Linked DNA regions of Homo sapiens: region 1 is linked to region 2. The links come from fine-mapping of genetic effects on gene expression. Tissue or cell type: whole blood. Region 2 holds a variant in brackets; the other region holds the start of a gene. All regions are shown on one strand. Distances are between the middles of the regions.

What was found. PIP is the estimated chance that this variant, and not a neighbour inherited with it, causes the effect.
Region 1: it holds the start of CNPY3, and the variant in region 2 is fine-mapped to the expression of CNPY3 in whole blood (TOPMed, PIP above 0.99).

The regions. Positions count from the first base shown.
Region 1 is chr6:42,926,044-42,933,273 of GRCh38, forward strand. CNPY3 (canopy FGF signaling regulator 3) reads left to right here and starts at 3,437. Exons shown (of 6, transcript NM_006586.5): 1 at 3,437-3,678. The coding sequence starts at 3,528. CNPY3-GNMT (CNPY3-GNMT readthrough) reads left to right here and starts at 3,437. Exons shown (of 5, transcript NR_134892.2): 1 at 3,437-3,678. RefSeq lists enhancers at 2,830-3,331, 2,916-2,965, 2,976-3,025, 3,332-3,833, 3,476-3,735 and 1 more.
Region 2 is chr6:42,852,782-42,861,001 of GRCh38, forward strand. It overlaps BICRAL (BICRA like chromatin remodeling complex associated protein), which reads left to right. Exons shown (of 13, transcript NM_001393499.1): 8 at 857-957; 9 at 3,075-3,136; 10 at 4,310-4,455; 11 at 7,481-7,575. Among named protein-coding and RNA genes, the nearest start is that of RPL7L1, 23 kb to the right of the region's middle. The variant G/A (reference allele first, on the strand shown) is at 4,388.

The DNA of each region.
Region 1 (7,230 bases), 73 kb after region 2:
CAACCTCTGTGAGAGGTCAGGGCAGAGAGCCCAGGAACCCAGGAAGGTGGGTGGTGGGTCTGATGTGAACTCTCGTACAGAGGTGAACAGGGCCAGGGTTTCTGGGGAACAGGATCGTTTTCAATAACAAGAGTATGAGATATTAATTCCAAACTTACAGTTTATTAATCAATTAAGAGTCATTATTCATTTGACAAATATTCTTTAAGTATCAACCCTGAGCCAGGTACTAAAGAGGTTTGGCTTTTTTGGTCTGGTTGTTACATAAAGAAGATTCTTGTATTGATCAAGTATGAGGCTTCCACAGTAGAGCATAACGTGTGCGTCCCCTGCTTGCCCAGCGCTGGCAGGAAATCCAGACTTTCCCAAGGGTTCTCTGCTAGTAATCACTCCAAGAGACTCTGGGTGCTGTCATGTAAATCCACCTGTCCCTTGGGCCCCATAGGATAGTCTGCTGGATCAACTTTAGTCTTCCTTCCCCCAGGGAGGGGATGGGGAACTATGCCCCAGCACCCCAACACATGGTTTCAAGGACACCCTCAGCTCCCCTGAGCCTCTGTGCTCTCTCAGCTACTGTTCCATAAAAACTCTCACTGCCTCCTCCACTGCTCATCTCTCACCAGCCTGAAAGGAGATTCTCCCACTTGTTTTGGGGATTCTTGGGTGCTGGTGGCTGGGGTGGGAGGGTCCCATAGCTTCTACGGATGAATCTGTCCACCATCCCCACAAGGCATGTTCCTTCTCTGACACACAGACTGAGGGAGGGTGTGGGCAGGGGCCCAACTATAGCCTCAGACTTTCTCTGGCCACTATCCCTTCCTAGCTGTCCGGCCAGATGCTGAGCCCAGGCTTCTCAATCTCCACTGTCAGGCTGGCTTAATCTTATTTCCCAGGAGGGCTTCTGAGCCGAGGTGAATCAAGGGCCATGGCCAAGCTCTGAGCCTACCCAAGTATTTTATTTTATTTTATTTTATATTTTATTTTATTATTTTATTTTTTGAGATAGGGTCTCACTCTGTCCCCCAGGGTGGAGTGCAGTGGTGCGATCTCAACTCTCTGCAATCTCTGTCTCCCAGGTTCCAGCAATTCTCCCACCTCAGCCTCTCAAGTAGCTGGGACTACAGGCACACGCCACCATGCCTGGCTCATTTTTGTATTTTTTGGTAGAGACAGGGTTTCACCACATTGGCCAGGCTGGTCTTGAACTTCTGACCTCAAGTGATCCGCCTGCCTTGGCCTCCCGAAGTGCTGGAATTATAAGTGTGAGCCACTGTGCCCAGCTTGAGCCAACCTAAGTCTTATCAAGCCTAGAAAACATGGAGGACCTTAGGAGGGTGTCCTGATCTTGTACACTGTGGAATTCCACATGCCACAGCCCCTGCCTATCCAAAGTGCTTTGTTACCAACACAGTTTTGGACAAGAAACTAAAGTCAGAAAGTGGCAAGGCCTGGGCCTCAGTGCTCTGAAGTCTTCATAAAATAGCATAAATATCCAACCTCTAGGAAGGAAACAAGAAGGTATCAGGGAACAGGGTTTTATGGCCAATTTGCAGACAACTTCCCAGAGAAGCAACTTTGGTCTGTGTGCGTCTGTAGGACACTGAGTTCAGGGGCAGCCTAAAGAAGACCAAGAGTGCTCCTCTTTATTTTTATTTGTTTATTTTTATTTTTTGAGACGGAGTCTCGCTCTGTCGCCAGGCTGGAGTGCAGTGGCGCGATCTCGGCTCACTGCAACCTCCACCTCCAGGGTTCAAGCAATTCTCCCGCCTCAGCCTCCCAAGTAGCTGGGACTACAGGCACCCACCACCACGGCTATTTTTTTTTGTATTTTTAGTAGAGACAGGGTTTCACCATATTGGCCAGGCTGGTCTCGAATTCCTGACCTTGTGATCTGCCCGCCTTGGCCTCCCAAAGTGCTGGAAATACAGGCATGAACCATCGCGCCCGGCATTTATTATTTTTGAGATGGAGTCTTGCCCTGTCGCCCAGGCTGGAGTGCAATGGCGTGATCTCGGCTCACTGCAACCTCCATCTCCCAGGTTCAAGCAATTCTCCTGCCTCCACCTCCCGAGTAGCTGGGATTACAGGCGTGTGCCACCACGCCCGGCTAACTTTTTGTATCTTTAGTAGAGATGGGGTTTCAGCATCTTGGCCAGGCTGGTCTTGAACTCCTGACCTCGTGATCCACCTACCTCGGCCTTCCAAAGTGCTGGAATTATAGGCGTGAGCCACCAAGCCCGGCCTCCTCTTTATTTTTTATTTTGATTTATTTATTTTTGAGATGGGGGGGGTGTCTCGCTATGTTGACCAGGCTGGTCTCGAACTCCTGGCCTCAAGCAGTTCTCCCTTCTTGGCCTCCCAAAGTGCTGGGATTACAGACATTAGCCACGGCGCCTGGCCTTTTTCTTCTTCTTCTTCTTTGTTGAGACAGGGTCTCAATCTGTTGCCCAGGCTGGTCTCCAACTCCTGGGCTCAGGTGATCCTTCCGCCTCGGCCTCCCAAAGTGCTGGGATTACAGGCGTGAGCCATTAAGTGTTCCCCTTAATGACACAGCAGATGAGAGTTTTACTGAGTATCTCCTTGTGCCAGGCACCCTGTTGTTGCTGGGGAAGCGGAAGGGAGAGACAATCGTTAATCGGCTAAATTTCTGCCTTCTGAGAGCTCAGAATCAAGAAATAAATAATAGGGCAGTAAAAGGGGCTGGGATTACATACAAAAAGAAAATTAATGCCTGAACTTTTTACAATCTGCTCGATAAGCTTTAATTCTATTAACCTATTTGAGCTTCCCAACAACAGGCAAGCTCCCACAGCAGCTAGGAGGATCACTTTGTCGTCATACAAATAGAAACAGGCTCAGAGAGGAAGTCATTTGTTCTAGTTCTCACTAGGACAAATCTACTGGCTACTAAAAAAGTGTGAAGGCTGGGGACAGTTTGAGTCGTCCTGCTTGCACCTTAAGCGCCTACAAGAGTGCCCGGCTATAACAACCACAATACCAATAATAAAATTTAAAAACAGATGTTCAGTAAGGACTTGCGGCATTAGGACCCCAGGAGGGAAGTGACGTTCGAGGAGGCGGAGAAAGCCGCGAAGACGGCCTTCCCCACATCTTCCAGCACCTGCGCGCCTGAATCCGTCCCACCCAGGCCCAGACGCAGGCTTCTTCTCGGGTCTTGGTCCTGCATCCTCTCTCTCCCAGAGCCTCCGTTAGGGGGTGGGAAAGGACTTTGCCATAGGTCGCTGAGGCCACCATCTGCTCTCTTACTGGCCAAGGGCGTAAAAAGATAGTCTTCCCATTAGCTAGAGAGCAAACCCCAGAAAGCCTATTGGCTGCGCCGTCCGCGGGCCTTGGTCCGCTTTGAAGGCGGGCTGCGGCTGCGAGAGGAGGGCGGGCGGGAGGCTAGCTGTTGTCGTGGTTGCTCGGAGGCACGTGTGCAGTCCCGGAAGCGGCGAGGGGAAACTGCTCCGCGCGCGCCGCGGGAGGAGGAACCGCCCGGTCCTTTAGGGTCCGGGCCCGGCCGGGCCATGGATTCAATGCCTGAGCCCGCGTCCCGCTGTCTTCTGCTTCTTCCCTTGCTGCTGCTGCTGCTGCTGCTGCTGCCGGCCCCGGAGCTGGGCCCGAGCCAGGCCGGAGCTGAGGAGAACGACTGGGTTCGCCTGCCCAGCAAATGCGAAGGTGAGGAGGCGGGGCCCGTGGGGCGTATCCTGCCGGAGGGGCTGGCTCCAGCGGTGGTGCTTGCGGAGCAGCGTCGGGGGTTGCAAGGTTCCGAGCTCTGCAGGGTGTCTTCCTTCCTTGAACAGGCTTGCGCCGGGACGCTGCGGCGGACGAGAGATCTGGTCCCGGTACCCCTGGAGTTCACACATTGGTAGAAACAAGCAATGATAATTCAGAGTAGTAGATGCCATGATAGGGGAGGTACAGAGCTTCCTTTTGGGGGCCGGACGAGGAGCATCTGGTCTAGCCTGGAGTGGGGGAGGGGGTGGGCGAAGGCTGTGTGCAGAGGGGAGTCAAAGAGGGCTTCATACAGGAAGCACGAAGAGGCATTAGGAGTTAGCCGGATGAAGAGAAGTGGAAAGAGAGGGGCCCACTCAGGAAACTACAGAGGCAGAGGCCTGCCGGCTGAGAAGCTAAGAACGAGTTTGAGGAACTGAAAAGCTCCAGATGACTCATCTTGGGGGAAAAAAACCTAAGACTTTCCCCTTTTGCCCTCACTGCAACCCAATCTGTGTAGTTGTCTGTTGCACCCACTAACAACTCCTCGAAGGCAGGAATTTTTGTCTTAGATACGTATTCACACAGTGTCTGGTAGGCACTCAATAAATGTTTTGAGAATACAGATGATTAAATGGGAGACTGTGGGTGTGTGTGAGGAGGAGGATCTGGATCTGAGGAGCCCTTTGGGGGAACAATAGAGCCTATGGGGAACTTGAAAGAAGATTTTAGGACTTTGGAGAAAAGGTGAGTCCCAAAGACATAGGCGTTGAGGAACTACAGAGAGAGAGAGAGAGGGAGCTACCAGCGAGCCAGGACTATAAAGGACCTATTTCTTTTTCCTCAACTCCGTCCCTTAGTTTTCTCCTCAGACCTTACAGTCATGCCTGCCTTCCTAGCCCCGTAACCCCAGGGCCCCCAGAAAGTTGGCTGTGAATCTCTCATCTGAATTGAAAGCCTACATCAGGCCAGATGTTCCCTAAACACTGGAAAGTGGGTTTGGGGTAAGTTTCGGACACATAATCCTTCCATTAGAGAGATTAAAAGGATGCTTTAGAGATAAGCCGACTTCACTGGTAGGGCACCCAGTATGAGTTCAAGCCTGTGCCTTCCCCCGTACATTCTTTTCTTTTTTTCCTTTTTTTTTTTTATGAGACTGTCTGGCTCTGTTGCCCAGGCTGGAGTGCAGTGGCGAGATCTCGGCTTATTGCAACCTCTGCCTCCTAGGTTCAAACGATTTTCCTGTCTCAGCCTCCTGAGTAGCTGGGATTACAGGCGCATGCCACCATGCCCAGCTAATTTTTGTGTTTTTAGTAGAGATGGGATTTCATCATATTGGTCAGGCTGGTCTTGAACTCCTGACCTCAAGTGATCCACCTGCCTTGGGCTCCCACAGTGCTGGGCTTATAGGCGTGAGCCTCTGCTCCTGGCCGCCCTTTCACTTTTCGCTCTTCCTCTAGTCCTGATAGCTTTTTTTTTTTTTTTTGAGATGGAGTTTCGCTCTTATTGCCCAGGCTGGAATGCAGTGGCGCGATCTTGGCTCACCGCAACCTCCAGTGACCCACCCTCCTCGGCCTTACAAAGTATTGGGATTACAGGCATGAGCCACCGTGCCTGGCCTTTTTTTTTTTTTTGAGACGGAGTCTTGCTCTGCCCAGTCTGGAGTGCAGTGGTGCGACCTTGACTCGCTGCAACCTCCGTCCCCCAGGTTCAAGGATTCTTCTACCTCAGCCTCCCGAGTAGGTGGGACTACAGGTGTGTGCCACCACTCCCGGCTATTTTTAGTAGAGACGGGTTTTCACCATGTTGGCCAGGCTGGTCTTGAACTCCTGAACTCGGGTGATCCACCCACCTTAGCCTCCCAAAGTGCTGGGATTACAGGCGTGAGCCACTGCACCCAGCCCAGCTAACTGATAGCCTTTCAGCGTTTCGCTTCCTCTTCTCTTTCTTTTCTGTCTTATTATTATTATTATTATTTTTTTTTGAGACGGAGTCTTGCTCTGTTGCCCAGGCTGGAGTGCAATGGCACAACCTCGGCTCACTGCAACCTCTGCCTCCAGGGTTCAAGTGATTCTCCTGCCTCAACCTCCTGAATAGCTGGGATTACAGGCACCTGCCATCATGCCCGGGTAATTTTTGTATTTTTGTAGAGACTGGGTTTCACCATGTTGGCCAGGTTGGTCTTGAACTCCTGACCTCAGGTGATCCTCCCACCTCAGCCTTCCAAATTGCTGGGATTACAGGCATGAGCCTCCGTGCCCAGCCTGTATTCTGTCTTATTCTGATATCAAAGAGCCCATACTCTCCCTCTTATTATTCTCATAGCCTAAGGAGCTCACATTTATTCTCCTTAGGCAACATTCACAGACTCACGGAAGCATAGAGATGCCCAGGATCTCTATATCTCTATATCTAGAGATCATTCTAGTCTACCCTCATTTGGTAACTGATGAAGATTAATTGAAAAGGGATTTGCAGTCACAGGATGGCTTGGCAAACTCCAACCGTTAGGTTCATCTTAATAGTATATTTGTTTGTATTATTATTACACCTTTGTTATTAAATGCTGACTGTGTCTAGCCCACCAAGCCTGCCTCCTGGCTCAGTAGCCTGAGTGGAACAGGCCTCGGCACAGAGGAAGGAGAACCTGCCCGGAAAAAAAGAGTGGGTGGATGTCAGTGAGGGTCTGGTGTCTGTGCCGTGAATCTCCTGTGAGTCTGGTTCTGGGTGGGATCCGCAGAGGAGGTCTTGAAGAGGTAATGTTTGGAAGAGCTGGAAAGCAAGGCTGTGGTTGATGGGTATGAGAGAGAAAGGATGTTCCAAACCTCCCCTTTCCCCACTCCTGGGGAGGGCGTGGGAGGAGGGGCAAGTGGTGCTAGAAAAATGATGTGCCTGCACAGAGTACAGGACAGAAGAGGGGAGGGAGCCCAGATGGTCCTGGATGGAGAGCTGGGGAGGTGAGACATCCCCAGTTCATTGCAGACTTGAAGATCACCAGCTTATTACTTGGAATTTGTATGTGTTTCAAATTCTCCAAGCCATTGATTAATTTCACCAAGCAGGCCTCCAGGGGATGTATTTATTTTTGTGGTAAATTGGTATTCTAGCAGACTGTGCTGTCAGTGTTAAAACTGCTGATGGCATTTAGCCTTCAGACTGGTATTCCATTCAGAGGCATCAGAAGACGGTCTCTATCAACAAGATTTATCGAGCGTCCAGCATATATCAAGTCCCAGGCTAAGGAAATACGAAAAAATCTAATACATAATGCACATTTTGGGGACCCTTGTGGTCTATGTGGAGAGACACATCAAATGACTGAGGGTCCTTAGGGAGAGCATGGATCCTGCAGAGGCCCAGAGTGAAATCTAGAGCAATTGGCATTAGTGCAGAATGGCTTCCTGGGGGAGAGGCTTATAATGCGAGGTGGGCAGGATGGGCAGAGAAGCCCTTAGAAGGCATTAAGTATTTTCCTAGGGCCTCAGGCACTTCACACCCTCGGTGGTAGCACTGTAG
Region 2 (8,220 bases):
GGAAAAAAAATACTTCTTAGAAACAATAAATTGAGGCCGGGCACGGTGGCTCACACCTGTAATCCCAGCACTTTGGGAGGCCGAGGCGGGCAGATCATGAGGTCAGGAGATCAAGACCAGCCTGGCCAACATGGTGAAACCCTGTCTGTACTAGCTGGGCATTGTCCTAGCTACCCAGGAGGCTGAGGCAGGAGGATCACCTGAGCCTGGGAGGTCGAGGCTGCAGTGAGCTATGATTGCGCCACTGCACTCCAGCCTGGGCGACAGAACAAGACCTTGTCTCAAAAAAAAAAAAAAAAAAGAAAAGGTATTTTACAGTACTTGTGACTTTGAAATTATCCCCATGTTGCTCTCTACATGCATGTTTGGAATTCTCCACCCAGACTGAAAATATTATGGACTATGTCTTCCGTTTTTTCTAAGGCTTTGAACATCTGCAGTACCCAATTAGTACTTAAAAAAAAAAAGGCAAGAAAGAGAAAAAGCTTGAATATTCCCAGTCAATTGCCTCTTTGGGCCTCCCTTTCCTTAAATTGTATTTTGGGATTCTGTAGTGCTGACAGATTACTGGCTTGAGGCCTGTTTTTCAGACTATAAATAATTTGAAACTATAGCATTTGGAGCTTCTATTTATTACTATTTACTTATTTATTACTTAAATAGGCTTTAATAACCTCTTCCTTTAGAGCTTGTAAGTAAATGCACTACCCTGCCCTCCTTCTTCACAGCAAGCAGCCATGATAAAGAAACCCGTTTCAGAATGCTCAACAGTCTGTACCCATTGGGTTCTAGGGTTATATGATGGACCCAATTTACTGTTTCTTTTGAACACTGTCTCATGTATTAATTCTAATAGGGCAGGATTCTGGAAGCAAAGTTATATCCGCATCCTTAGGAACCGCACAACCACAGCAGGAAAAAGTAGTTGGATCATCTCCTGGCCATCCAGCTGTGCAGGTAGAAAACTATTGGCATAGCCTCTTCCTAATGTTCGGCATAATTGAATGAAAATGTAGTCGTGCTATCTTTGTGGTTGCTGGCTAGCTTTGTGTGCACAGTCCACCCAGTCCCCTGTGTGCCCACAACAGGGTGGTCATTGAAGACCTTCCTGGTGGGCTGGGCCTTGTTATGTTTATGTTTCTGAGATGAATGTCTATTCTATTTCTGACATGTTTACAGTGCTTCATTAATCCATCATTTCCTCATGAATTAGTAATATACCAGCAGCTAGTACATACTAGGCACTCAAAAAATGTCATTTACTACTAGGTGATATCGTTCACTATTATATCAAAGCGAATCTCTTCTTCTTAGTTATACTGAGGGATTTTTGTTTTTCTGTAGTAGTAACCAGGCGTATAGGAAGTAGGCCATCCCTACGGTCTTTTGACCCAACTTTGACACTTTTTAAAGTCCAACTTTTTGGTTTTTGTTTGAGACAGGGTCTCACTCTGTCACCCAGGCTGGCATGCAGTAGTGCAATCACAGCTTACTGCAGCCTTGACCTCCCAGGCTCAGGTGACCCTCCTGCCTCAGCCTTCTGGGTAGCTAGGACAATGCCCAGCTGTTTTTTTGTATTTTTTGTAGAGATAGGATTTTGCCATGTTGCTCACACCTGTCTCAAACTCCTGGGCCCAAGCCATCCACCCACCTCAGCCTCCCAAAGTACCTGGATTACAGGTGTGAGCCACTGTGCCCTGTCTAGTCCAGCTGGGTTTTTTGTTTTGTTTTTGTTTTTGTTTTTGTTTTGTTTTGAGTTGGGGTCTCACCCTGTCACTCAGACTGTGCTGCAGTGGTGTGATCACAGCTCACTGAAGCCTCGATCACCTGGGCTCATGCGATCCTCCCACCTCAGCTTCCTGAGTAGCTGGGACTACAGGCACGCACCACCACGCCTGGCTAATATTTTTATATTTTTTTTAAGAGAAAACGTTTTGCCATGTTGGCCAGGCTGGTCTGAAACTCCTGGGCTCAAGCAATTCTCCCACCTCAGCCTACCAAAGTGCTAGAATTACAGGCTTAAGCAACCACTCCTGGCCTAGTTTTTTTTGTTTGTTTGTTTTTTTGATACATGATAGATGTACATATTTTCAGGGCACATTTGATAACTTCAAGTTTGGCTTTTAAACCTAAAAGATTTCAAACTACTAGTCTAAAATGGAAGGAAACATTTCTTGTTTTCAGCTTACTAAGACAGTTTCGTTTCCATCAGACCTACCAATTAGTGGTTGAATGAAACTTGCTGCAGTGTGGGACTGCCTGGAATACACAGTGAAGGATCTGTTCAGTTCTAAGGTTCTGAGATAAGGCCTATTTGTTTCCTTAACATGATGTAAAAAATGCCTCGTTAGATCACACACCTGGACTATATATAACAGGAGCTTAAAAGTGTGTATCCCATACTTACACTGAGAAGATGGATTAGATAGTATCTACTGACTTTTCAGATGTCTGTGGAATTTCAAAAATATAACGATGGGTCAGTGCTGTGGCTCACACCTGTAATCCCAACACTTTGGGAGGCCAAGGCAGGCGGATGGCTTGAGTCCAGGAGTTCGAGACAAGCCTGGAAAATATGGCAAAACTCCGTCTCTACAAAAAATACCAAAAAATTAACAGGCGTGGTGGTGCATACCTGTAGTCCCAGCTACCTGGGAGGCTGAGGTGGGAGGATCACTTGAGCCTGGGAAGCAGAGGTTGCAGTGAGCCGAGATTGTACCACCACACTCCAGCCTGGACGACAGAGCACGACCCTGTCAAAAAACATGATGATGATGATGATGATGATGATGGTGCATTTAGAGAGGAGGTAGGCATTCAGGCTTTAAAGTGCAAACTGAGTCCCTCTCAGGAACCGATTATACACCTTTCTGTAATCTTAACACAGTACAACTTTGTTTCATGGACTCTGTGTACTGGTTTTTTTTTTTTTATTTTTCAGCAGGGCACATTCTGTAGTCTTAGAATATGTTCTTGATAGGTAGTTGAAAATATGTGAACTATAGTGACCTTTATGTATAACTGTATTCTTTTTTCTATAAAAGGGAATAATAAGAGGTTTGTTTTGTCTTTAGGTGGAGAGTCATTCGGGAGGACAAAAAAGGCCTGCTGCGAAACAGCTAACGAAAGGAGCTTTGTGAGTTACTCTCGGAAATGACAAATCAATTCTGAACACTTCTTTGGGTCCCTAGCCTTCAATAAATATACCACAGAAAACAGGTTATAATAATGAGTATATTAGCCTTTTTAAAAATGTACTTTGAGGCAAGGCATGGTGACTCACTCCTGTAATCTCAGCACTTTGGGAGTCTTAAGGCAGGAGGATCACTTGAGCCCAGGAGTTTGAGACCAGCCTGGGCAACATGGCTCTGCAAAAAATACAAAAATTAGCCAGGCGTGGTGGTACGGGCCTGTAGTCCCAGCTACTTGGGAGGCTGAGGTGGGAGGATAGCTTGAGTTCTGAGGTGGAGCTTGCAGTGAATTGGAGATTGCGCCACTGCACTCCAGCCTGGGTGACAGAGCAAGACCCTGTCTCAAAATATATACATATATACTTTGAAAATCTTTTTCTATACTTTCTTTTCCTTTTTTTTTTTTTTTTTTTTTTTTTTGAGACAGAGTCTTGCTCTGTCGTCCAGGCTGGAGTGCAGTGGGACGATCTCGGCTCACTACAGCCTCCGCCTTCTGGGCTCAAGTGATTCTCCCACCTCAGCCTCTGGAATAGCTGGGATTATAGGCACCCGCCATCACGCCTGGCTAATTTTTGTATTTTTGTAGAGACAGAGTTTCACCATGTTGGCCAGGCTGGTCTTGAACTCCTGACCTCAGGTGATCCACCCACCTCAGCCTCCCAAAGTGCTAGGATTACAGGTAGTGTATACATTTCAAATATATTGAATGTAGTTTCAGCCTACTGTTTGCTCTTTTCTTCTTAAGGAGAATAGTTCTTTGTCTTTTCAGAGACAAAGAATCTCTGAGGAAAAGCGTGGTTTGGTAAACTCCCATGTTTAGAACAGAAATGTTAGCATGAACTTAGTTGGCCAATGGTCAGGCACTGCCAAGGTTTATAGGGGTGCCAACACATAAATGATTGGTGGGAACCTGTGCTTTTGAGGTCAGGGTCATAGTTTGAGTCCTCTGTGGGGCTAGTTAAACTAAGTTATAAACCCACTATGGTATAAAAAATATAAAACTAAAAAACTGCCGTATTATTCCTATATATCTTATTTTATTTGCATGCAAATAAATATGACTAGATTTAATTTCCTAACATGACTTTACATTGACATTGACCATTTCCCTTGTAAAGCATTCTCCAGCAGTTGCAGAGGGACCAAGCCCACACTGTGACACCAGACAAAAGTCACTTCCGATCACTAAGTGATGC[G/A]GTACAGAGACTGCTCTCCTACCACGTGTGCCAGGGCTCCATGCCCACTGAAGAAGACTTGAGAAAAGGTAAGCAGGCTGGGACCCTAAGGCACCACTCTGATACCAGGAAACCCTCCATGGACACCCCCCAGAAAAGCAAGAGCCACATCACCCCCAGATGGTAGGCAGGTTATTGTTTTTAATCACAGACCAAACTTGTTCCCTGTTTACTCAATTTCCCAGTCCATGTTTAAGGTTGTGACTTACACTTCTCAGTATTTTTTGAAGGGAAGTCAAGAGTAGGGGCACACACCTGTAGTCCCAGCTACTCAGAAGGCTAAAGCAAGAAGATCATGTGAGCCCAGGAGTTTGAGACTATAGTGTGCTATGATCACGCCTGTAAATAGCCATTGCACTCCTGCCTGGGCAACATAGGGAGACACTGTCTCTTAAAAAAAAAAAAAAATATATATATATATATATATATTTTTTAGGAGGGTACCCTAATGTCAGAGTATTTTATTGACAAATTAGGGACAGTAAATCCAAAGCTTTGTATGGACTGCCGGCTCCAGATGGGATGGCTTTGCACTAGACACTCTACACAGTGGTTTTGCATAGTCCTTGCCTTTAGGCCATATGCATACCCTGAATTTTTTTTTTTTTTTTTTTTTTTTTGAGATGGAGTCTCGCTCTGTCACCCAGGTTGGAGTGCAGTGGCACGATCAACTCACTGCAACCTCTGCCTCCCAGGTTCAAGTGACTCTCCCTGCCTCAGCCTCCCCAGTGGCTGAGATTATAGGCGCCCACCACCACGGCTGGCTAATTTTTGTATTTTTTTAGTAGAGATGGGGTTTCACCATGTTGGCCAGGCTGGTCTTGAACTCCTGACCTCAGGTGATTGGCCCGCCTCAGCCTCCGGAAGTGCTGGGATTATAGGCATGAGCCACCACTCCTGGCCAAACTGTTTCTAATAGTTTTATGAATTAGGCACTTGAGCTCCCAAAAGCATTCCCTAAGATTCCAAAATGAGTCCAGAGCATTGGCCACACATCAAGAAACTGACAAAAATGTGAGAGATAAAGGCTGAGCACAGTGGCTCACGTCTGTAATCCCAGCACTTTGGGAGGCTGAGGCAGGCCGATCACCTGAGGTCAGGAGTTCAAGACCAGCCTGGCCAACATGGTGAAACCCCGTCTCTACTAAAAATACAAAAATTAGCTGGGCGTGGTGGCACACGCCTTCAGTCCCAGCTACTTGGGAGGCTGAGGCAGGAGAATCGTTTGAACCTGGAAGGCAGAGGTTGCAGTGAGCGGACATCGCACCACTGCACTCCAGCCTGGATAACAGAGCAAGACTCTGTTTTAAAAAAAAAAAAAAAAAAAAGGCTGGGCGCAGTGTCTCACACCTGTAATCCCAGCACTTTGGGAAGCTGAGGTGGGTGGGTCACCTGAGGTCAGGAGTTCGAGACCAGCCTGACCAACATGGAGAAACCCTGTGTCTACTAAAAATACAAAATTAGCCAGGCGTGGTGGCACATGCCTGTAATTCCAGCTACTCGGGAGGCTGAGGCAGGAGAATCACTTGAACCCGGGAGGCAGAGGTTCCCATGAGCCGAGATCGTGCCATTGCACTCCAGCCTGGGCAACAAGAGCGAAACTCCATCTAAAAAATAAATAAATAAATAAATAATAATTTAGAGATAAGAGCCCCTTCCCCAAACCTAGAACTCCTTCTGTCCTGATGCCTGGCCATGCTCTTTCCCACCACCACCGCTAAGGCCTGGCTGTATCAGTGCCCTCCTCTTTTCTAATCCCTTCCTCAGCTGCTACAAGTCTTACTCCTCCTGGCAGGGACCTCTAATCTCAGGGCACAGTGGTTTCTGTGAGTCCACTGTGGGCTTCCCTAGGACACCAAGGAATAGGGTCAAGATCCAGCGTTAAACAGGGGGTGTGAAAGGGCTGGGCATGGTTCTTCACGCCTATAAGCCCAGCATTTTGGAAGGCCGAGGTGGGCAGATCATGAGGTCAGGAGTTCGAGACCATCCTGGCCAACATGGTGAAACCCCATCTCTACTAAAAATACAAAAAAATTAGCAAGGGCATGGTGGTGCACACCTGTAGTCCCAGCTACTCGGGAGGCTGAGGCAGGAGACTCACTTGAACCCGGGAGGAGAAGGTTGCAGTGAGCTGAGATTGCGCCACTGCACTCCAGCCTGAGCGACAGAGCAAGACTCTGTCTCAAAAAAAAAAAACCCACAGTGGGTGTGAAGACTGAGAAGAAGAATGAATTAGAAGGTGTTCAAATCCTTGGAGACCAACAGACAGAGGACAGAGCCACATGACCATGACAGTTTAATGTAAAGCTGTGTCTTTACATTAAACTGGTTTACCTAGTCCAGACAGTTGGACTTCATTGTTTCAGCTATTTTAGTTTTTCATACCATTAGGCTTAGGTCATCTAAACTAGCAGATCATTCTCTACTCATTGATATATATATATTTTTTTTTGAGACAGAGTCTCATTCTGTTGCCCAGGCTGGAGTGCAGTGGCACGATCTTGGCTCACTGCAAGCTCCGCCTTCTGGGTTCACGCCATTCTCCTGCCTCAGCCTCTCGAGTAGCTGGGACTAGAGGTGCCCGCCACCACGCCCAGCTAATTTTTTTTTTGTATTTTTAGTAGAGATGGGGTTTCACCATGTTAGCCAGGATGGTCTCCATCTCCTGACCTCGTGATCCGCCCACCTCGGCCTCCCAAAGTGCTGGGATTACAGGCATGAGCCACCGTGCCCGGCCTACTCATTGATATTTATTGCGAGTCTGTTATATGGTTTTATTTTATAGGTGATATCAAAGTAATTATGTTTTTGGTTTCCTAGTTAAAGTTAAAAGAGTTAGTAATAAAATGAGTTTCCATGACCAGTGGACAGTGAGGGAATGCAGTGTAGAAGGATGATGCTTAGCCGGGGAAAAGCTCATCTAAGAAGAGAAAATTGCCCCAGATAAGCCATGTTTGAATAACAGAAGAGTAATGTATTTCAGTCTTAAGAAACAGAAGACCTAGTCAGTGATTTACAGTCTCTCACTATTTCTTTGTCTCTCTCTTTTTAAAGTGGACAATGAATTTGAGACAGTTGCCACTCAGCTCCTAAAAAGGACCCAAGCTATGCTTAACAAATACAGATGCCTGCTCCTAGAAGATGCCATGGTAAAAGTCATGCTACTGATATTTGTTCTTTAAAACTTTACAGGTCACAGCCACTAAATCAGAGACAGAAAGGTCAAGGAATTATAGAATATAATGTAAAAGTAACAGATATTTCACACTGTAGAAAAACTTACGCTTAGCTGCTACTACAAAAACAGCAGTGAACATTTGCTGTACTTTACTTGGTGGGTCAGTACTATTCTCTTGTTTAACGGATAAGGAAACCAGGGCTTTGGTTAAGTAACTTGCTCGAGAACAGATGGCTAAGAAGTTTGCAGAGTAATTAGCAGAGCTCGGATACGAGCCAGGATCATCTGACCCCTGGTCCACACTCTGATGCCATCTACCGCCTTTCACCAACCCAGAGATGTGGGAGAAGGACTGGAGGCACATCTGAACAGATAAGCTGGTGACAAATGTCAAAATTAGTTTTGTTTTTGAGAGATCATTGACATTCCATAAAATTTACATTTAAAGTGTACAACTGAGGCCAGGCATGGTGGCTTATGCCTGTAATCCCAGCACTTTGGGAGGCCAAGGCGGGTGGATCACCTGAGGTCGGGAGTTCAAGACCAGCCTGACCAACATGGAGAAACCCCTTCTCTACTAAAAATACAAAAAGAGCTAGGCGTGGTGGCGCATGCC